Regions from separate parts of the Homo sapiens genome. Here region 2 is linked to region 1. The links come from fine-mapping of genetic effects on gene expression. A gene starts in region 1. The other region holds a variant in brackets. All regions are shown on one strand. Distances are from middle to middle.

Region 1 (11,378 bases):
TACTTTTAAAAGTTTTGTGAGAAAAAAAATTTAAGGCTGCAAGAACATATATCAAAATATTAATAATGTTGATCTCTTAAGTGGTGGAATTATGTGTTTAACCAGAAAGGCAAAGAAAGCTTCTTTTCTAAGATGCTTATTTCATTACTGGTAAAATAATAAAATAACACAATATTTTCAAATAAATAAAGCCCTTAAAAATGCCAAAGAGGGCCGGGCGCGCTGGCTCACGCCTGTAATCTCAGCACTTTGGGAGGCCGAGGTGGGCGGATCTCGATGTCAGGAGATCAAGACCATCCTGGCTAACACGGAGAAACCCTGTCTCTACTAAAAATACAAAAAATTAGCCGGGCATTGTGGCGGGTGCCTGTAGTCCCAGCTACTCCGGAGGCTGAGGTAGGAGAATAGTGTGAACCTGGGAGGTGGAGCTTGCAGTGAGCCGAGATAGTGCCACTGCACTCCAGCCTGGGTGACAGAGCGAGACTCCATCTCAAAAAACAAAAATGCCAAAGAGTTGCTGATCAAAATCAGTTAGGACAGATTTTTTTCTGTAAAGAATCTCTTCTGGTACCTTCAAGTTCTTTAAATTATTCATAGCTAAAAGCCTGAAGTAAACTCATAGGAGGATTAAGCTGCAAGAGATTTTCCCGTTTTATCTCCCGTTTTCAATTCTCCATGGAATGAAATATATTCTTGGACTTACAGGAAAATTGACATTGAAGGTTTAGTTTCTAGAACTTAAGGACAGATCACAGATCCTCTAACAAGTAAAGAATGAGAGAAAGACGAGACTGCGCATAGAGCACCATGAACGGCGCACAGAAGAGCTCTTCACTTTAATACACGAAGTGTACAGGAAGAATCTTTGATGCATGAGGCAATATTTTCTGCCAATCTCCACTAAAAAGGTGGATTTCAAAAGACAACATCCAAAGGCAAATAGTTCTTGAGACCCAAAAAACTGACTTCTAGATAAGGCAAGAAAATGTTTTCTAAGATTATAATGGTAACCTATATACCTTAGATCCTCAACAGATATTCCTTGATTTGAAAATAAACAGCAAGCAAACATTTTTCATTTTCCTACTGATGGATATAGGTAATTTAAATGTAGTAGGAATTAAAGTAAACATCTAAAAAGAAACTATTTAAAATATACTACAAACCTCGGTTATAAAAAGTGTCTTTAGTGGCCTAAATATGCAGCAAAATACAAATCCTGTGCATAGGGAACAGGTGGTACTCCAAAAAAAATCTACTTGTCAACAGATATATGGAATTCAGAATGCGTTTTCCCATGGAAACACTGTTATAATGGTGGTTAATTCCCAGTCTCCTCCACAAAGCCTATTTAGTTGTTAGTGAGAAATATTTATCCCACACCTGTGTTTTATGTGAATGGTACTGGTGGTCTAAATGAAGACATCCATAATGCTAGGGGAATAAGAATGGCTCTCCTTTCACTCAGAGCTGAAGCTTCTCAGCAGAGTCCCTCTCCATAAAGGGTTTCCAGGTAAAGAGATGCCACCCTCAAGGTCATGCTCTCTTCCTGGGGGGAGCCCAAGTCCAAATGACCAGTCAACTGGGAGTTGGGGGAGTGTGTAGAAGGCCCTGCCCCTATTATTTAAGGTGAGATAACTCAGAAAGGCCATCCCACCTCCAGAGCTCCCCCAAGAGAGGATCAACTGGGGTCTCTGTTACAGATGCATCACAGTTCAACTCCTGCTTCTGCCCAATCCTGCTTCCTTCCCTCCTCCACTAGGAATGATGCCAAGAGCACTCTCCAGTAACCTCCAGCACGTGTATCTCTGCTCAGGCTATTTCCAGGATCTAAGACAAACAGCTAATACTTCGTAAGCTGGTACTGTAAGTCAGACACTGTTCTAATCTATCTAATGTATGTAATCTATTTATTTTAAATATATTTAATAGATAGATACAGATATTTTACTACATCTGTATGGGTAGGTACTACAATCCATTTTACAAAGCAGAAACCAAGGCTCAGAGAAGTTAAATGACTTGCCCAAGGTCATTTGACAAGTAATTTGAGAAGCCAGGATTTGAATCTAGGTCCACCAAATGGAAAGCCAATCTCTATGCAAACGAACTCCATCTGCTAGAAACAGTTCCATGAATTAAGGCAGACTCTGCTGCCCACGGGTTCTAGAGGCAGTAAGGAATGAGTGGAGTGATGAACCATGGTCATCCAATAACAGGAATTTATAAAAGTACTTAAGATCCAGGCCCAATGAAAACTAGATATACTATGATCAAGGTTTCAAATATTTTTAGGCCTGATATAAAAATGTAGAGGCCTAATGGAACCAGAATGAAACTACGTATCTACCTTTTGATAACTAGATTCTAAATATAACCATTGGTAATCTTGTATACCTGCAATGAAAATGCAAATGGTATGTGCAGACAGATTACTATGTAGGAAAAAGATGGGGTGGTCTTTTACACCAATCCCTGAAAAATAAGCCTCATAAACTAGTATCTTAAAATTAGTATCTAATAAATGTCTTATTAGCGGTATGATATCCTAAGAATTAATATTAAACTTACTCAAGATGCACAACTGCAGCCAGTTCATCTTCTCCAACCACAACTATACCGCGGCTTCCCCAAGCTCTCCGTAACTAGTAATCTTCCTTTACAGAATAAGTATTTATTTATGCCCACTTGACAAACTGAACAACTAAAAGCTAATATTGCCCTGCTCTGGTGGCCGCACTGCCCAAGAGCTACAAGACACAAAACCATTCTATAAACTCCAAACAACTACAAATAAACACTATTAATTTTAAGCGAAGTCATTAAGTTTGCATGTTTGCAGATGTAGATAGCTGACTTGAACAGTGAAAAACTATTTACAAGTTTCAAAGAATATCAAGTACCTCCTTTCTTGTAATAATTACTTGATTTGTAATTTCTGTAATTACAAAATCTAATGTCACAGTTAAGTAAAAAATTGAAATACACTTAAAACTACTACCGATAATAACTTTAACATTAAAAATCCAAATATTGGTCCTTAGTTGATTTTGAGAATTTACGCATCTCTTGCCCCTTCCTCTTTAAAAATTCACCAGTAACGCCTCTCCCAAACCCCTACCTTATAAACTATAGCTTTAAATAACAAAGAAAAAAACAAAGAAAGAAAGAAAAGAAAAGAAAAAAGCATTTGATTTTGCACCCAGGAGTCCTCAGCATCCAAGTTCAGTTATCATCAACTGCAGAACTGAGGGGGGGTTCCTCACATTAAGGTGAATCATTCACGAAGACTTCACATCACTTCAGAAACAAGAATCAGGCATCATAAAATTTGGCTCACTCCTCTAATATAAGTTACATCCTCTGACCCTGACTATGGGAATGTTGGCCCATTCCTTTTTCTCCCCGCCTTTCACTTAATAAAATAAGCTCCTAATCAGAAACAGCTCTTCACATACACTGTGCTGCTAAATATACTTGAGTCTGCCACTTCAGAGAATAATAATAGGGGCCCCTTAACCAGTTTGTTATGTACAAACTAGGAGGTACAAGTAGCCTAAGAAAAAAATTTCCTCATGCCACCTTAAATTGGACTAATCTTTTGGAGCAAGAAAAAAAAGGAAACTGTGAACTTGAAGCTTCCACATAGGCCAAAAAAAAAAAAAAAAAGGAGCTGGTAGGGGGGTGGGCAGAGCAAACCAAAACCACCACCAGAACAGGAATGCAAGCTCCCTGAGGACCGGGATGTCTCGTCTTGATTACCGCTGGATCCCTTAGTATTGAACACGGTACTTGCAACACTGCAGGTAATCTTTTTTAAATGAATAAACGAAAGCTGTCATCATTGTTCATGCACTCTTTGTGAGAAACTTTAAGCTCATTATATATGTAACCTTTAAAATAACAAGAACTGGGAGCATAATAGGGAAGGGGCACTCTGAGCCTCTCAATAACACTAGGAGGGAGCCAGGGTAATTTTTTTTCAAGTTTACACATGAGGAAATTGAGGCTCTGGAAGACTGACCTTTCCAAGATGATGAAGCTCTAAATGGCTGAGCTAGGAGTCTGTCCTACCCAGAGTCTGAGCACCTTTCTCTCTGCCACATCAATACCAAAATGAAGGTTAAAGCCAGGAGAAAAACAAAAGAACATGAAGAACACAGGCTACCCAAAACTAGTATTCTGAAACATTCACAAACGGGGTAAGTTTGTTTCTGAAAATAAATAAATAAATCTTCCTATTTCAATATTGCAGAGACACAGCCAACGGGGCCTACAGTTCTAACAGGCGACATTCAGCCGCCTATGTTCAGAGCACTGTACGCTGCTTGTAAGAGCAGGTGCCCTGTTTAAAAAGTGCCTGATCTGGCTGGGCGTGGTGACTCACGCCTGTAATCTCAGCACTTTGGGAGGCCGAGACGGGCGGATCACGAGGTCAGGAGTTCGAGACCAGCCTGACCAATATGGTGAAACCCTGTCTCTACTAAAAATAACAAAAATTAGCCGGGCGTGGTGGCGGGCGCCTGTAATCCCAGCTACTCGGGAGGCTGAGGCAGGAGAATCGCTTCAGACCGGAAGACGGTGGTTGCAGTGAGCCGAGATTGCGCCACTACGCTCCAGCCTGGGCGAAATTGCAAACTCCGTCTAAAAAAAAAAAAACAAAACAAAAAAGTGCCTGATCTACATAAAGAATGGCTTCAAAAGCTGACGCTATAAATTAAAAGCCAGATATAACAATTCAAATCTCCCTTCATTAAAATACCTACGTTGTCTTCCTGGAAAAAGTGCCTGACTAGAGGAATTCAAAGAACTGTCCAAATAAGTAAGTGTTTGCCCAGCACCTTATAACGAAAACCATGGCTCTGTAATGAGAACAGAAATCCTGTCACATCTGGGCCAGTTCCTAAGTGTCCCCTCAAAAGGAACATTCAGGCACTACCTAAGATTATGAGGCTTCCTTCTGAAAATGTTAAGCACAATGACATAGAGAATGATTTTTCTTTTCTTTCTTTTCTTTTTTTTTTTTTTTTTTTAACTCCGGGCTGAGAACGGAAGTCAAGTTCAGATTCTCTTCCTTCCTCAAGCAAGCCAAAAAATTAAAGAGCAAACACAGAGGCCCTAAATGTCTCGAGGCCTCTTCACCTGTGGCGATCGACGCAGCAAGCCTGGGTGTGCTAAGAATTGAGGCTCTCTCTCCTTCATTCCGGGGGTTACGGGTGGCCTTGGAGCACCGGGAAGAATTAACCGGTGCCTAAGTTTTCAATCGGATCATTCTTCTCAACTTGGGCGGCTCTTTCCTCCCTTCCTTCCTCCCTTCGGCCCGGCACACACGGCGGGGCAGTGCCAGCGCGGGCAGCAGGCTGGGCCCGAGGGCAGCGCTGCCGCAGCCGGGAGCCCCTCAGAGTGTGGGGCGCGGGCTGCCCCCCGCGCGGACACCGGGCAGGGGCCGCAGATCTGTCCCCGCCGCCAGGCGTGGGGACCGCGAAGGGGCAGCCGCGGCGGGGCGGAGGGGCGGGGTGAGCACTTCCTGACTCTCGCATTGTCCACGCACCGCCCGCGCCACCCAGGGCCCCGCCACCGCGCCGTCCCCGTCGGGGAGGAAGTTGGCGCTCGCCCCGCCAGCCCCGTCTTACCGTTTTTGGCATCGCCCGCGGCCGCAGCCCCCGCGGCGGCCGCAGCGTTCGCGGCGCCAGTCCCCGCGCCTCCGGCGCCCGCCGCGCCTCCGGCGCCCGGCGCGCCCGCCGCCGCCGCCCCGCAACCGGCCGCCGCCGCCAGGGCCCCCCCGGCCGCCGCTCCCGCCGCGCCCGCCGCTGCCAGGGCCCCGGCTCCATTTTCCTGCTCGTCGCCGCTGCTGTTGGCGCGCTTGTTTTTGCGGCCGCCTTTGCTGTTTTTGGGGTTGGGCATCTCGCTCGCTCGCGTCCAGGTAGGTGCCCGGCGTCAGCGAAGGCGGATCCCAGAGGCACGGCCGTTCCCGGCCCTGCGTGAAGCCGGCTCCGGGAAAGAACGGAGGGCGCGAGCCGGCGGTTCCCTCGGCTCCCGTCTAGCCGCACGGCCCGTGCCGCGCCATCCTGGCCGCCGCGCCCTCTCCGGCTTCCTGGAGCCGGCACGCGGCCACCCGAGGCTCGCAGCCGCGCGGGCGCCGCGGGCCCGGGGCGCAAGCGAGACGCTCCCGAGCCGGAGGGAAAAGGCGGGTCTCCGGCTTGTTTTGATTCGGCTGCACTGACACGCTCTGGGCCCGCCCCCTCCCGTGACGACACTGGGGATTCGGCCTGGCCGCGCCCACCAGGTGACCTCACGGCTGACGGGACCGCCCGCGTGACGTCACGCCCCGCGCGGGGCCTGCCCACCTCGAGTGACGTCATCCAGGCGTCCCCACCCGGGCCTCCTGGACTCCCGGGCGTTCATGAGCTGCCCTGCTTGACTTGCTCCACCCGCCAGTGCAGTGGCATGTGGAGTTCTTCGGTGGCCTCCTGGCCTTAATGTAATTGAGGCTTAGAACAGTATGGTCTGGAAAAATAAGCTGTGACTAGAGCAAGAATGGAAAACAAAAGATTTTGGATTAATAACTCATTCAAAGGCTATGCCTTTCAGTAACAGTAATTAAAGAAACAGGGGACCGGGCGCGGTGGCTTATGCCTGTAATCCCAGCACTTTGGGAGGCCGAGGCGGGTGTATCACGAGGTCAAGAGATCGAGACCATCCTGGCCAACGTGGTGAAACCCTGTCTCTACTAAAAATACAAAAAAAAATTAGCTGGGCGTGGTGGCGTGCGCCTGTAGTCCCAGAAACTCGGGAAGCTGAGGCAGGAGAATCACTTGAACCTGGGATCCGAGATCGCGCCACTGCACTCCAGCTTGAGCAACAGAGCGAGACTCTGTCTCAAAAAAAAAAAAAAAAAAAGAAAAGAAAGAAAGAAACAGGGTAGAGTTCCCAGACAATGGGGATGAACACCAGGGTCCTGAATGGGAAGCCTTCACAGTCTGGTGGTGAAAACAATTCACTCAAACAAGACCCATCATCCAGGGATGTAACTAGATGTTGCCTGGACTCTGAAGCAGTCCCTGCTTGGGGGGAACCCATCCCTATGCATAGGGCTGAGTTGTCCTGAAAGATAGTGAAAGATAGGTAGCCAGGTTATGAGCAGTAGGAGATTAGGTGACACCAGTGAAGACAGGCAATATGAGGGCAGGGGACCCCTGGGAAGAGCTCCCCTTGATCTCTTTCTGCAATTCTATTCTACCTTTTCGGCCAACTCCTTCCCTTCCTTCAGGTCTCAGCTCAAATACATCACTTCCACAGAGACCTTCCCAGGAGAGCTGTCAGAAGTTCCACCCTGTTATTTTCCTCCTCCATCTCTAATTATGTTGGCAATGTAGGTGTTTACTTATTTCTTGTATATCTCCCTCTCACTGAAATGAAACCTCCATGGATAGATTTTATCTGCCTTGGGCACATCAGAGAACAGCTGGCATAAATTTGTTGAATGTATAAATTAGGTTCCTTCCTCACGAACTGTGGAGGAAAGACTAGTTTAGCTGACAGCTTTACAGTGTTCCCCTTTTATAGTGTAATCTTTAATTCAGCCCTTTAGTAAAAGCTCTGTCACGGTGTTGTTGTTACCATTAGAGGGTCTTGACTGCAAGTCGTCCAAGTTCTTGGCATTTTGAACAAACAATTGGACCAAACGCCCAGCAAAGCAAGGAAAGAAGAAAGCAGGGATTTATTGAGAATGAAAGTACACTCCACAGTATGGAAGCGGCCCCAGCGGTGGCTCAAGGTTCCGGATGCAGAATCTTCTGAGGTCCAAATACCCCCTGGAGGTTTCTCATGTAAATGAAGTGGTGACGCACAATTAGTCTGATTGGTTGCTTTCGTCAACCAATCAGAGGCTGAAGTGGAGTTAACAAAGGTCACACTTCTGTGCAATCACACTTTTTGCACACTTCTGTTTAAAAAGCAACCAATCAGAGGCTAAGGTGAAGTTACAAAGTTGCACTTCTATGCAAAGACTCCACCCGCAATCAGTCTCATTGGTTGCTGACAGCCAGTTTCCCATCTGCCACGCAGAAAAGGTGAGGGTTTGCAAAGGGAGCAGCTTCTGGTCCTTTTGTTACTCAGGTGTGGAAAGTTAGGGTTTTCCTTTCAATTTAGTTTAGGAAGTGGGGTGAAACGCCCTTAGGTTCCCTGCCTCCAGACTCTGTTCTCTGCCTCATTGTGAACTATACAGATAGACAGGAAAGTACAAGAAACAATACTCTCCCCCACATTCAGGTAATGGAGAGGAGATTCTGATTGCGAGCTCTGGGCAACCATAGCAGAATGCATAACAGAGCCTGGAACGGCAAGAAGGAGCAAGCACTGGATACTCAGGGGAAATTGCTGGTTGGACTCTTTAGTAGAAAAAAAAAGTTGAAATTTTAAATTCCCTAATATGTATTAGAGGATAGTGACCCTTTAGAAGGCCCTATTGATAGATAGATATTTTGTGCTTATATTTTCATGTCTATTTCTCCCCAACCTTGAAATCCCCTAGGTGCTAAGAGAGCAGGGATTGTGCCTAGCTTTCTAACGCTACAGAGTCTGGCATAAACCTTGACCCACAGTAAGTATTCAATAAAAATTTGTTGCATGGAAGATACCTAAAGCACTCTTCTTCTGGCTACATTATTCTGAACCTTAAAGTCTCAGCTAAATCATCAATTCTCTAGGAAATCTGTGACAACCCAAAACTAGACTTGTCCCCAGATACTCCCTGCACCTTCCTCACCATAGCAGCTTACACACTGGGATATTGCTTTGGTGGCCACTTGGACACCAAAAATGAGGGGTGAAAGAGAGAGTGAAGTCAAGAAATTCTGAAAATCAGAAGAAATGATGAAGGTAGTTAATTAAAGGGAGACTTCCCGGGGAGGGCAGTGGGTCCGTGGAGGAAGATAATGAATTACTGTTGCCCATTCAGACTTAGCTTAATTTCATTATTGATACCACTAGAGGTCTCAAAATATGTGGGTGATGTTAGCTTTGGCGTTTCTTTTTTTTTTTCTGGTTTTTTGTTTTGTTTTTTTAAGTCGTGAAGGCGAAGACATTTTAGGTTAGAGTACAAGAAAATTGAGATAATTATTTTCTTGAATAAGCACATTGCTGTCATGCCATATTGGATCAGAGTTAGTATGCATGTACCCTGCAGACAGACATTCACACCAGCTGCCTCCCACCTCTACATAACTGAGAATTAAGAATTGGAAACTTTCCACAAAAATATCCTAATTGGCTCAAAGCACCCAGACATCCAGCCAGTTGCTGTTCTGGTTAATTGTGTGAGCTACCTCCTTCTATTCAAACTGAAACAAAATGAAAAGGAGGAAGGAGAAGCTTGCCACTTCTTCCATGCTCAACCTCGCTAATCTATTTTTAGCCTTAGTCAAATTTGGTGCAGAGGCAATAGTTCCGATTTTATTGCTACAAAGACAATATACTAAAATCAAGATGTTAGGAACAAAATGTAGGTGAAGTTAAAGGACTCCATTTCCTATGTTCTATCCTGCTGTCCTAGCCGTTTTCCCACCATTTCTGAAGGTGAGAGAGAGAGACAGCATACCAAAAGACAAAAGGTGGCAGATGGTACAATGGAACATTCCCCTTAGAAACTTCCAGAAGTATAAAGAACTCCAAGGAACTGAGGAAGCCACTCTGTTCTGTACATCTACACTTGCCTTCTCATTCTTCAATTTCCCTGATCAACTCATGCTCTGATATAAACTTCAAAAAAATTATACCTCTATCCTAGGTTTCCTTCCCCCAAACCTCACCCACCCTATTGCTCACTTCTCTGCGAAAACAAAATAAAGCACAGCAACAAATCAAGGGCATCAAAAGCAAACAATTTACACCCTTAAGAAAGGGGTGGGCTAATCTTCAGGCTGAACTGGAATAAGCAGTCATTGTTTCAGTGCCCTAATTTTGTTCATTTGACATTTTGTGGCTGTCTTCTGAGCTCTTGGGGTCAGCTAAGTTTGGTTAGGTTTAAAGTACAAAATATATGTGTTAAGGATAATTGAAAACTTAGAACATAGGTAAGAAGCCAAATATCCAAATACACCTTGATCGAAAAAATCATATTGGAACTCAGAAGGAATTCTGCAGATAACACAGTAATGCACACAAGAATATGTCCACAATTGAAACATAAGCTAAAAGGTACTAAAGCCTGATCTGCTAAAAAGTCACTTCAAATAAATACACCTGGAGCAATGCATTGTCTTCATGCATCAGTTTTTTCTTCTGCAAATAGCCTTTCCTATGGCCACAGGTTTTCTTTGAGGAATAATGACAATTGTGATTATAAAAACTTTGAAAAAATGGAATATTAAAGCAAATAATAATATTGATTAATAAATTCCATAGATCTACTCTCCCTTTAGGCTGTTCCCGATTACCAATATTAATATTTTTCTCAAATATTTGCCCTTAAAATCTCTTTTCCATCCTTTAGTTGTGACTTTTACATTATTTTCATAATCTATAAAAGCAGTCATAAAAAAGGGTCAGAATTTTTTTCAGTGATCCCTGAACTTGCTGCTTACTCGAACCTCTGTGCCTTCCTTGCTCATACTATTGTCCCAGTTCAGCATCAATACTATCTTAGGCCCCAGTAAACCCGAAAGAACGTTTCCTTCATGAGATTTATTTACTTTTTTTTTTTTTTTTTTTTTTTGGGACGGAGTCTCGCTCTGTCGCCAAGGCTGGAGCGCAGTAGCACAATCTCGGCTCACTGCAACCTCCACCTCCCGGGTTCAAGTGATTCTCCTGCCGCAGCCTCCTGAATAGCTGGGATTACAGGTTTGCGACACCATGCCCAGCTAATTTTTGTATTTTTAGTAGAGACGGGGTTTCACCATATTGGCCAGGCTGGTCTCGAACTCCTGACCTTAAGATCCACCCGCCTTGGCCTTCCAAAGTGCTGAGATTACAGGTGTGAGCCACCTAAGAGGCCGCGCCCGGCCTAAGAGATTTATTTTTATGTTTATTAACTTTGTTTACTGTCTGTCCTTCCACACTAGAATGCAAGTTTCAAGAGGGTGAGGATTTCTCTGTTAATCTTCTGTACCTAAAACAGGGCCTGGCATATAGTTAAGTGTTTAATACATATTCATTCAATAAAAGAGAATGGAGAGGAGCACCTAAAAGAATAATTTGAGCCAGATCTCATGAAGAAAAAAAGAATTCTTCTAAAACCACATTTTTATGTTCAGCTAGCATAATATTTAAACCAAAAAGGGATGGCTCAGTTTGGTCTAGATTTGTATAACAAGAACCCCTATAATAGCAATACCTTCATCAGCAATTGCAGTGGCCATGGAATTATCCATTTCTACACC
Region 2 (11,378 bases), 200 kb before region 1:
GCAAGCCTGAACCTGGAGGGTGCCCTTCCTGGAGTGATGCAGTCACCCTGAAGTTTTCTAGAAAGGCTGTCTATAGGTGCACCCATGCTAAGCTCCCATAGGAGAAGTCCCAGATGTGCCTGCAGTGATGGACTAGGGGGAAAAGAAGTTCGCTTCTCCAAGACCCTTCACAAGTGCTAGGGCTGCCTGACTGTTGGGGTAGAGCTATAGACTGGTCACGTGGACGGACTCAGAACCTCCTGGTTAGCCAGGGTGCTGCATGCAATGGTGATAGCTGAGGTCACACACAAGTTTTCTCCTTCCTGGGCTCTGTGTTATTCTACCTGAGAATGCTGTAATGGACTGTGTCAGTTGGCCTCCAGCCAGGAGGTGGTGCTTGCAAAAGAGTGTCAGCTGTGGTAGTAGTGGTGGGATTTGTGCTTGCCTTATGTAACTCAGGGGAGGTATTCTAGAATCTCAGGCAATGGGTGGGTCCATAGAGCTCCCAAAAGTTTCTGTCCCTTGTGTTAAGCTACCAGGGCAAGTGGTGGAGCAAAGCCAGGTGGGGGCTGGGTCAGGCAGGTCCATGCTCTGGCTCTCCACATGCAGGGCAAATAACCCCAGTAGGAGCTGGGGGCCAGTTCTCCGGCTGCTCCGGTAATATTCCAGGAAGCAGTGCAGCTGCCTGTGTTGCACAGAAGAGTTTCACAGGGAGTGGGGAATAGCAGGCAACAGTAAGCCTACCCAGCTCCCACACGCTTAGAAAGGCAGGTGGCAGGTCGCAGGCCAGGCGCGGTGCTCATGCCTGTAATCTCAACACTTTGGGAGGCCGAGGCAGGCAGATCACGAGGTCAGGAGATTGAGACCATCCTGGCCAACATGGTGAAACCCCATCTCTACAAAAAATACAAAACTTAGCCGGGCATGATGGCACATGCCTGTAATCCCAGGTACCTGGGAGGCTAAAGCAGGAGAATTGCTTGATCCCAGGAGGCGGAGGTTATAGTAAGCCAAGATCACTCCACTGCACTCCATCCTGGGAGAAAGAGTGAGACCCCGTCTCAAAAAAAAAAAAAAGAAAAAAGAAAAGAAAAAAGAAAGGCAGGTCTCTCATACTTGCAGTGTTACACTAGCATCAGCTAGCTAAGTTCCAGGCAATCTGCACTTAAAACTCAAAACTGCCCCAGCCCATAAGCCTTCCCTGTGGAGACAGCAACAGCTGCTTTCAGGACATGCTCCTCCCAGTCCCAGCTCCTGTACTTGTGGCTATAGCACACTTCCCACTTGCCCCCAGTTCTGGCCAAGGGAGTCTGTCCCCACTTGAAATTATATCATGAATTTCAGCTAGGAGCTTCTCTCAACGTGCAACCACCACTTGAGTTAGTTGGCAGACTTCTGGGAAGTCCCTTGTGAGGTAGGACCAAAAATCACTTCCCTTAGTCTGTGCTGAAGACTGGGAATGCACACAAGGCTCTTCCCACTGCTGCCCCTGCTTTTATATGCCACATCAATCCCTAAATCAATGCCAGCACTCAGTAGGGTTAAGGCCTTCCCCCATGGACTGGATTAACTGGTTCCCCAGTGGGAGTGTATTTCCTGGAGGCAGTTTATCCCCCTTCAGATTCTGCAGACTTAGTTTTTCACCTGACTCATGGTGTAGGCTGCAGCCCACCACTTCTTTCAAAGGGCCTGTGGTTTCTTTCAGTTTTCCTGTTTAGTTCCTGTGTTGCTTCTTGGAGAAAAATTCACAGTGTGAAACACTACACACTATTGTGTCTTTCCAAGGAGGAGAAGCATGCTGACAATGTCTCCAATCTACCATCCAAGAAGAGACCAAGAGTCTTTTTAGGAATATGAAACTATCCAGCACCAAACAAGGAAAAAATCTATAATGCCCAGCATTCAATCAAGGATTACCATACATCAGGATCTCAAATCTAATAAAACACAATTTAAAGAAAGAAAATAAAAGATCACCAGTCATGAAGGAAGCAAAACACCACCCTTAATGAAGAGAAAAGTCAGTCAATTGAAAACCACCTAGATGTTAGAATTAGCAGACAAGGACATTAAAACACTTATTGTAACTGTTTTTCAAATGATCAAAAGTTAAGTAAAGACATGAAAGATATAGAGGAGACCTAAATCAAATTCTAGTGATGAAAATTTTAGAAATGAGATGAAAAATTCATTGGATGAAATTAGAAGCAAATTAGATGTTTCACAATAATGTGATTATACTTAACACCATTGTACTGCACACATAAAAATGGATAAAATGGCAAATTTTATGTAGATTCTTTTACCACTATATATACAATATATATATTTTTGAGACAAGATCTCACTCTGTCACCCAGGCTGGAGTATAGTGGCACAATCATGGCTCACTGCAACCTCAACCTCCCAAGCTCAAACAATCATCCCACCTCAACCTCCCATGTAGCTGGTACCACAGTCACATGTCACCATGCCCAGCTAATTAAAAAAAATTACAGGCACAGTGGCTCATGCCTGTAATCCCAGCACTTTGGGAGGCTGAGGTGTGTGGATCAACTGAGGGCAGGAGTTCAAGACCAACTTGGCCAACATTGTGAAACCCTGTCTCTACCAAAAATACAAAATTAGCCAGGCATGGTGGCAAGCGCCTGTAATACCAGCTATGCAGGAGGCTGAGGCAGAAGAATCACTTGAACCAGGGAGGCAGAGGTGGCAGTGAGCCGAGATTGTGCCATTGCACTCCAGCCTGGGCAACAGAACAAGACTCTGTCTCAAAAAAAAAAAAAAAAATTGTAGAGATGGGTCTCACTTTGTTGCCCAGGCTGGTCTCAAACTCCTGGGCAATCCTCCTGCCTCAACCTGCCAAAGTGGTGGGATTACAGGTGTGAGCCACCACGCCCAGCCTAAAAATATATTTAAGGGGTCAGGTGTGGTGGCTTAAGCCTGTAATCCCAGCACTTTGGGAGGCCAAGGCAGGTGGATCATGAGGTCAGGAGATCTAGACCATCCTGGCTAACATGGTGAAACCTTGTCTCCACTAAAAATACAAAAAATTAGCCGAGTGTGGTGGTGGGCACCTGTAGTCCCAGCTACTCGGGAGGCTGAGGCAGAAGAATGGCATGAACCCAGGAGGCAGAGCTTGTAGTGAGCTGAGATCACACCACTGCACTCCAGCCTGGGCGACACAGCGAGACTCCGTCTCAAAGAAAAAAAATATATATATATATAAGGAGTTTAAGAAATAGATTAGAAATTGCAGAAGAAAAGATTAGTGTATATGTGTATATGAAGACATAGCAATAGAAATTATCTAAAATTAAACAGAGAAAGAATAAACATTTAAAAAACCATGTATCACTGTGCTGTGGAAAACTTCAAGATGCCTAATATACATGTAATAGAAGTCACTGAAAAAGAAGAGAGAGGGTAACAGAAAAAAATGGGAAGAAATAATGGCCAATAATTTTCCAAATTTAATGAAAAGCATAAATCTACATATTCAAGAAGCCCAATGAACCCAAAGCACAAGAAATGTGAAGAAAACGACACTAAGGCACATCATAATTAAATTTTCCTAAACAAGTGATAGAACATTGTAAAGCAGAGAAAAACATCACAATATATTTAGGGAAACAAAGATAAGAACTATAGCAGATCTCGTATAAGAAAAAATGCAAGTGAGAAGACAGTGACACACAACATCTTTAATGTACTGACAAAAAAATTATTAAACTGTCAAACTAGAATTTTATACCAAGCAAAATATGTTTCAAGAACTAAGGTGAAATAAAGACTCTTTCACATATACAAAAGCTGAAAATATTTATCAGCAACAGACTTGCTCTATAAGAAATGTCAGGCTGGGCGTAGTGGCTCATGCCCGTAATCCCAGTGCTTTGGGAGGCCAAGGTGGGTGGATCACAAGGTCAGGCAATCAAGACTATCCTGGCCAACATAGTGAAACCCCATCTCTACTAAAAACACAAAAATTAGCTGGGCTTGGTGGTGCGCACCTGTAATCCCAGCTACTCAGGAGGCTTAGGCAGGAGAATCGCTTGAACACGGGAGTCGGAGATTGCAGTTAGCTGAGATCACGCCACTGCACTCCAGCCTGGCAACAGAGTGAGACTCCATCTCACCACAAAAAAAAAAAAAAAAAAAAAAAAAAAAAAAAAAAAGAAATATCAAAGGAAGTTCTTCAACCAAAGACATGAGGAAAAGGGAAGAAAAAGAAGAGATGGGTCAAACAGAAAACAAATGGCAAGATGACAGACTTGAATCTATCAATTATCACATTAAATATAACTTTGTCAAAACATCTCAATTAAAAGTCAGAGATTGTCAAACAGAAAAGAAACACAGGGCCGGGTGCGGCAGCTCACGCCTGTAATCCCAGCACTTTGGGAGGTCCAGGCTGGCGGATCACCTGAGGTCAGGAGTTCGAGGCCGGCCTGACCAAACCCCGTCTCTACTGAAAATACAAAATTAGCTGGGCATGGTGGCACATGCCTGTAATCCCAGCTACTTGGGAGGCTGAGGCAGGAGAATTACTTGAACCCAGGAGGTGGAGGTTGTGGTGAGCTGAGATCGCGCCATTGCACTCCAGCCTGGACAACAAGAGTGAAACTTCGTCTCAAAAAAAAAAAGAAAAGAAAAGAAAAGAAAAAAACAGAAGACCAAACTATATGCTGCATATAAGAAATGTACTCTCTCTCCATATATATTTTCTTTCTTCTTGATCAGTCTAGCCAGAGATTGACCAATTTCACTGATTTTCTCAAAGTAACTGTTTTTGGTGTTATTCATTTACACACACACACACACACACACACACACACACACACACACGTTAGATGTTAAAAGACAGAAAAAGATAATCTAGCTAACCTTAACTATAAGAAAGTTGTAGTGACTATATTACTACCAGACATGATAGATTTCACAGCCAACAATATTACATGGGATTTTTCAAGTTTATTTCATAATGATAAAAGGTCATAAACAAATCTAAACATTTATGCACCTAATAATAAAATACATTGAGCAAAAAACTGATAGATCTACAGGAGAGGCAGACAAATTATGGTTTGAGATTTAAATATTCCTCTCTTAATAGAAATGATCTGCTGATTACATTTAAACTGAGCGACTCTGCATTTTCTGGATTCTGGATGGTTGCCTTTCATGAGCCCAATCGAAGAAAGAAAATCCTTGGACCAGATGCTTCACAGCTGAAGCCCGTAGGACCGCGGAAGAATACCTTGAAGATATTGTTTGCATCAAAATCACCCAAATTTATGTCTTCCTTATCCAGGTCCTGCCCACTGTGATAATGAATCGTTTTCTTGGAATCAAAGAGGATGATAAAGACCTCGCCACTTCCTTGATCTTCTCCTCCTCCTTTTGAACCCCAGCGCTGGCTCCATCATGACGATGTGGATGGTACTTCAAGGCCTGTTTCCAATAAGCTTTCTTGATCTTGTCCTCAGAGGCATTCTTGTCACTTCCAGAACCTTGTAGTAATTATCCCTCTTACTCTTCTTCAGTTCCAGCTGTGCATTTTTTAGGAGCTGTTTGTATTCTTTTGTTTTCTCCATCTGATATACTTTTTTCATAGCCTCGCACTGTTTCTTCATACTGTTCTGTGTCCAAGAAACACTGAGCTCTTCTCAAGTAGGCTTTTATGTAAGTGTCATGAGCTTCACTGCATTTGTGCAGCTGTCTATTGCATCATCTAGTTTCCCAAGCTCGGAATTAACCATATCCCGGTTACAGTAGAGTTTAGCAATTGCTTTTATGTTGTCGGGGTCTACCCCGGGGGTTCTGCGTACAGTTCATCAGCTAGTTTGTAATTTCCTTCCCTAAACGCTTTATTCCAGTCTTCTTTCTTTGCGTTAAGTGCTCTGGCATTTCTGCACGCAAGGCAGGCCTTCTCATGGTCAGGAACCACTCTGAGAGCCTGTACAAAAAACTGAACAACTGCCTACTCAGTACAATCTTCATAATAAAGGCAAGGTCCGCGTACATACAGAGCATCCACATTGGTGGAATCCGTTCATAAAATGTCACTGGCCACAGACTGTGCTTCTGGATAACGACCCAGCATTGCTAAACATTCTGCTTTGAGGGATATTGAAGTGATGGCAGACAGGGGCAAATTCTAGGGCATAGTCCATGCAGAAAACAACCTTCTGAAAAGCCCACTTCTCAAAACTTGTTTCTATGACTTTCTCCTATTCCTTGACTGCATTAGCATTTGTGAACTCCTGTTGTGAGTGAGCATTGTTATGATCCAGTTCTAGGGCTCTCTGAAAACTGCAATGTGCTGCCATGGCATTCCCTGGAGAGAGGTGGCACTTGCCCTCTCGTAGATGTCCCCAGAAGAAACCATCATCCAATTTCACTGTGAAAGTATCTCCATGGGCTTCGCAGAACCTTCCAAGTATCATCAATGTAGCTGCTCTATTACTATGATAGCTAGCATTTTTAGGGCACATATCTGTGGCTTTTGTTTAATAGTTATAAGCTTCGTTGTAATCTTCCTTGGCATAGTGTGCATTTCCTTGTTGCTTCAAAGACTGTGCTTCAGTATTTTAAATTACAAACTGGCAAAGCCACCCTCCTTTTATTGAGGCGATCCTGCCTTTTTGTTCTTCTCCATCACTGTCCTGGCAAGCCGTCTTTGCTTCCTCTTCATGGAGCAGCCCTGGCTTGGTTGCC[G/A]CACCACATTGCACGATGGGGCAACTGACAGTTTCTTAAAAAGGAAATTATATCCCTGCCATATGACGCAGCAATTTCACTCCTAGATATTTACTTAAAGGAAAACAAAGTATGTATCTATACACACAAACTTGTAGATGAATATTTATAGCAGCTTTATTTATAACAGCAGAAACCTAGGGAAAGAAGGCTTCAATGTTTATGTTCAGGTGAGTGGATAAACAATTTTTGGTATGCCCATATAACAGAATACAAATCAATGCAAAAAGTGAACTATTGACTCACACAAAACATGGAAGAATCTCAAAATTATGCTGAGCGAAAAAAAATATATTTTTTCTCAGAATGCACACTATATTCCATGTATGTAAAATTCTAGAACACCAACTAATCTACAGTGTTAGAAAACAGATCAGTGGTTGCTTGGGGACTCAGAGGTATGGGGAGCAGGGAGAAGAAGGGGGTATTACCAACGGACATGAGGAAACTTATGATGCATATTTTCATTATCTTGATTATTATGCTGGGTGTATACAAATGTCAAAGCTTTTCAAGGTTTATAGTTTAATTATGTGCATTTTATTGTATGTCAATTTGGCCTCAATAAAGCTGTTAATAAAAATTTTGTCAAGCTTATGTTCCCCAGTAAATGAAATTTACTTCAAGTCACCAACAAAAAAACGTACAAGGTCCATTTTTCCTCTGTTCTGTGTTTACAACTGACAGTTAATATGAAAGACAGAATATCCAAAAATTCTATCTGCTGAGGGCCACAAATTATCAAGTCTCTTGTCAAGGGTGGCCAGCCACTGGTTAGTGGCTCAAGACACAAAATGCAGAACCAACACATTCAACTGACCATGATCATTTCTCCAGGGGTAATCTCAGTTCAAGTGTGCACTTCTGCCAGTCCAGACACTTGCTTCTTTATTATTATCCAAATGCTTGCACACATCTCACAAACTGGCACTAGTTCACCGATGATGATTTGGCCACTTTGGGAGAATTCCATATGTTTCCAAAATTGTCCATCTTACAGTGTTCTTAGAGCAAATGAAGTTTCTCTTCATTAGGACAGTAAAGTCCTAATGTTGAATGTACTATCTTTTTTGATTGGAATAAAGAAGCTTCTAAATAAAATTCTGATTCTCTAATAGCTTTAATTACAAGGAAAGCACCAAAAATCCATAGCTTATTACAGTCTGTCTTTTGATCCTGTGGCAAAGGCCTACCTTGCCTCACGGCTACAGCAGCCACTGCCAAATTCATGGCCGTGTCTGCTGGCACAATTCCAGGGGCTTTCTGGGAGCTCGTGCTACACAATTTTGGCCCTTAACTGAAAATACTCATTTCCAGCAAGCTGGTTTACTCCTGTAAGATCATCTTACCTCTTTGCAAATTACTAGCCATTATTATAACACTTTATACCTTGCTACTTCCACTCTCAGGAAAAGAAGAAATGCAAATAACTTGGGGTTACCTAATTCGTAACACCTCCCTAAAGTTAGATGCCACTTGGGCTAATTGAAATTTGGGGGAAGAAGCCTAAATTGAATGATTTTACCCTGAAACAATGTCTTAAAAATCCTAATTTGGCTAGGTTTATCCTGAATTAGAAGAATTAAATTTGTCATTACCAGGTAGAAATTTAGCATTTATGACAGAAATTAAATTTGGTTATAGAAAATTTTTAAAAATCTCTATTTCATGCACAATTAAGTCATGGACTGATCCATTTACAGCCACTAAAAAAGCATCCACCCCTACTAAGAGGAGGATCCAGCCTCCTGGTCTATCTCATTTGGGCAATGATGGAATGAATCATATAAGCTCCCAGACAAGGGTCTCAAGATAGAATTTAAAATAATTCCACTACAAGGATAAAGGAGATTATAGAATAGATTGGGACAGAAATAGGCATGCTAAGCCAGAATTCACACAGGAGTTCATTTGACTCTAAACCTATGCTCTTTTTTTTTTCTGATGAGATGGTTCAGAGTTTGCGTTTCAACTCACTAGCTTAGAGTCTGAACATTATTGCCTTTTATGTAAAAGAGGGATTATAGCGATCTTAAAGGGTGAGAGAGCCTTTGTAAAGGCCTGACACTAGCGTTTGACTCATTTTATTTAAAATTATAGCTATTTATGTAGCAGAATGTCAGGTGATGTTGTGGAGAAACTGAGGAACCAACCAAAAAAAAAAAAAAAAGGTTATATACCAAATGATCAGTTTTCTGGCCAGAGAGAATTTGTATTGAAATTGGCAAGAAAGAGGCAGCAGGATTTTTGAACTGCCTGTACATGATTAAGTGAAAGTCAGAGGGAGTCAGAAAAGAAATTATACTTGCTTTCACAGCTCCGTTCTACAGCATTCTTCCACCACAAAAAAGCTTGCAGGTGATTTGTTCAGACCAGTTCTAAACGCCTGCAGAGGTAACAGCCCCACCTTTTGGAGATTATTACTTCACCTAACTCTGATGGGAGACAAGCTAATAGGACTTCCCATTAAGAGTAGTTCTGGATACTAAATTTACTCATTTTCCTCTGTAGTCTGATTCCACTTCTTTTTATTTTCACCAATGTTCAGTGATCTTGCTTTGACTTATTGTTGCTGTTGACCTTGACTCATGGCTTCAGGTTATTCTATTCACCATCTACCTGTCCCTAGTTCTTCTTCGCCCCCTCCCTAAAAACTTCCAAAAAACCTTTCTGAGAGTATGTTTCTAAGTAACAGCCTTCCCTGTATGTTACAGCCTCTAAGATTATGAAGTCAACACCGACATGCTTCTTTTGAGACAGATTTCATCATCACAGCAGTGAAAGAAACACAAGATGCGTTTTAAGGGTGACTTTTTGAAAGATGAAGATGGCTAGGGAGAAGTCTGTTGGATGGAAGATGAGCCCATTTGGCAAAGGATTAAATGAAGCAGCAAGTTTGATAAATCTGTTCGAGGTTTAAGAATATTCAGACACCTTTTCTTCCCAAGAAAATCCCCACACATCTCTTTTGGAACAAAGGCTTCTCTACAATGGTTCCAAATGATTCAGACATAACTTCCTGCATCTGTCACCAAAGGGATTTCTTCACTTTTAGTAAGACCATTAGCTGGCTTGCCAAATTCTTCAGCATAACAAAATTATACGTCATTTCTCTCTTGGGTATGCTGAAATGGTGAAAATTGCCCAGAGAAAATAGAAACTCTGATAAATGATTTTCTTACTGTTTTCAAAAGACCCAAACCTTTCTCTTATTAAATTGAATCTTTCAGGATGAACACAATCAAGACCATGGGGAATATCTCTATATTCTTAGAACACTTTCCAGCTAAAGTTTACAGATGATATTTCTTCAGACACAGATTTAGAATTAAATTATTTTTCTGAAATAGAACTCTTCTCTCTGAGCTTATGCGGAATCAGCCAATTTGACTATGTGATTTACTTTGTCCTTTTTATATGAAGTCCAAGAATTAAAGATGAAAAAAAGAACAGGTAAATATTGCTGTAAAACAGACGTTCATGTCATAAACTTGATACTGAGAAATAAATCTCTCTCCTCATTAGTGAACTACTTGAGGTAGAGACTTCGTTGACAAAATGGCTGAAATGCAGGACCTCTAGTTTCCTCATAAATTATGTTTCCAAATGATTGGATAATATTGTCAACACAAATATGTGGTGTATATATTTCCAAATCAAGATGCTTTGTGGTTGTCCGTAAGATACAGATTGAGTTGCATGACACCACTGCTAGACAGGTATGTGAGAAAATATATTGAACACTGAAAAACAATATTTTCTTTTTTTTTTTTTGAGATGGAGTCTCACTCTGTCGCCCAGGCTGGAGTGCAGTGGCGTGATCTCGGCTCACCGCAACCTCAGCCTCCCGGGTTCAAGTAATTCTCCTTCCTCAGCCTCCTGAGTAGCTGGGGCTATAGGCGCATGCCACCACATTAGCTAATTTTTTATTTTTAGTAGAGACGGGGTTTCACCATGTTGGCCAGTCTGGTCTTGAACTCCTGACCTCAGGTGATTCACCAGCCTCGGCCTCCCAAAGTGCTGGGATTACAGGTGTGAGCCACCACACCTGGCCAAACATTTTACATTTGAATGTTCTTCCAATAGAAACACTTGACGACCTTTACTAGAATAACTCTTTATATACCAAAAGCATATCTGGGCTATGAAGACAAGTTCTTTGAATTATTCATTTCCTGAACACAATTGTATTAGTCTGCTTGTGGTACTATAATAAACTAGAGATTGGATGACTTAAATCAGAGACATTTACTTTACACAGTTTTGGAGGTTGGGAAATCCAAGATCAAGGTGCCAATAGATTCAGTGTCTGGTGAGGGTCTACTGCCTGGCTTGTAGTCAACTGCCTTCTCCCTGGGTCCTCACATGACAGAGAGTCAAAGTTCTTACTCTTCCACTTCTTAAAAAGCCATTAGGGCCGGGCATGGTGGCTCACGCCTATAATCCCAGCACTTTGGGAGGCCAAAGCGGGCGGATCATGAGGTCAGCAGATCGAGACCATCCTGGCTAACACAGTGAAACCCCATCTCTACTAAAAATACAAAAAATTAGGAGGGCGTGGCGGCAGGCGCCTATAGTCCCAGCTACTCGGGAGACTGAGGCAGGAGAATCGCTTGAACCCGGGAGGTGGAGGTTGCAGT

The links.
Region 2: its variant is fine-mapped to the expression of HECA in whole blood (INTERVAL, PIP 0.98). The same link has a PIP of 0.9 or more in monocytes.

What each region holds. Positions count from the first base shown.
Region 1 is chr6:139,129,923-139,141,300 of GRCh38, reverse strand. It overlaps HECA (hdc homolog, cell cycle regulator), which reads right to left and starts at 6,221. Exons shown (of 4, transcript NM_016217.3): 1 at 5,634-6,221. The coding sequence starts at 5,904. RefSeq lists enhancers at 5,150-5,269, 6,135-6,429, 7,708-7,757 and silencers at 5,380-5,649, 6,050-6,129, 6,240-6,429.
Region 2 is chr6:139,333,370-139,344,747 of GRCh38, reverse strand. It overlaps the pseudogene LOC100129844. Among named protein-coding and RNA genes, the nearest start is that of CITED2, 36 kb to the left of the region's middle. The variant G/A (reference allele first, on the strand shown) is at 6,700.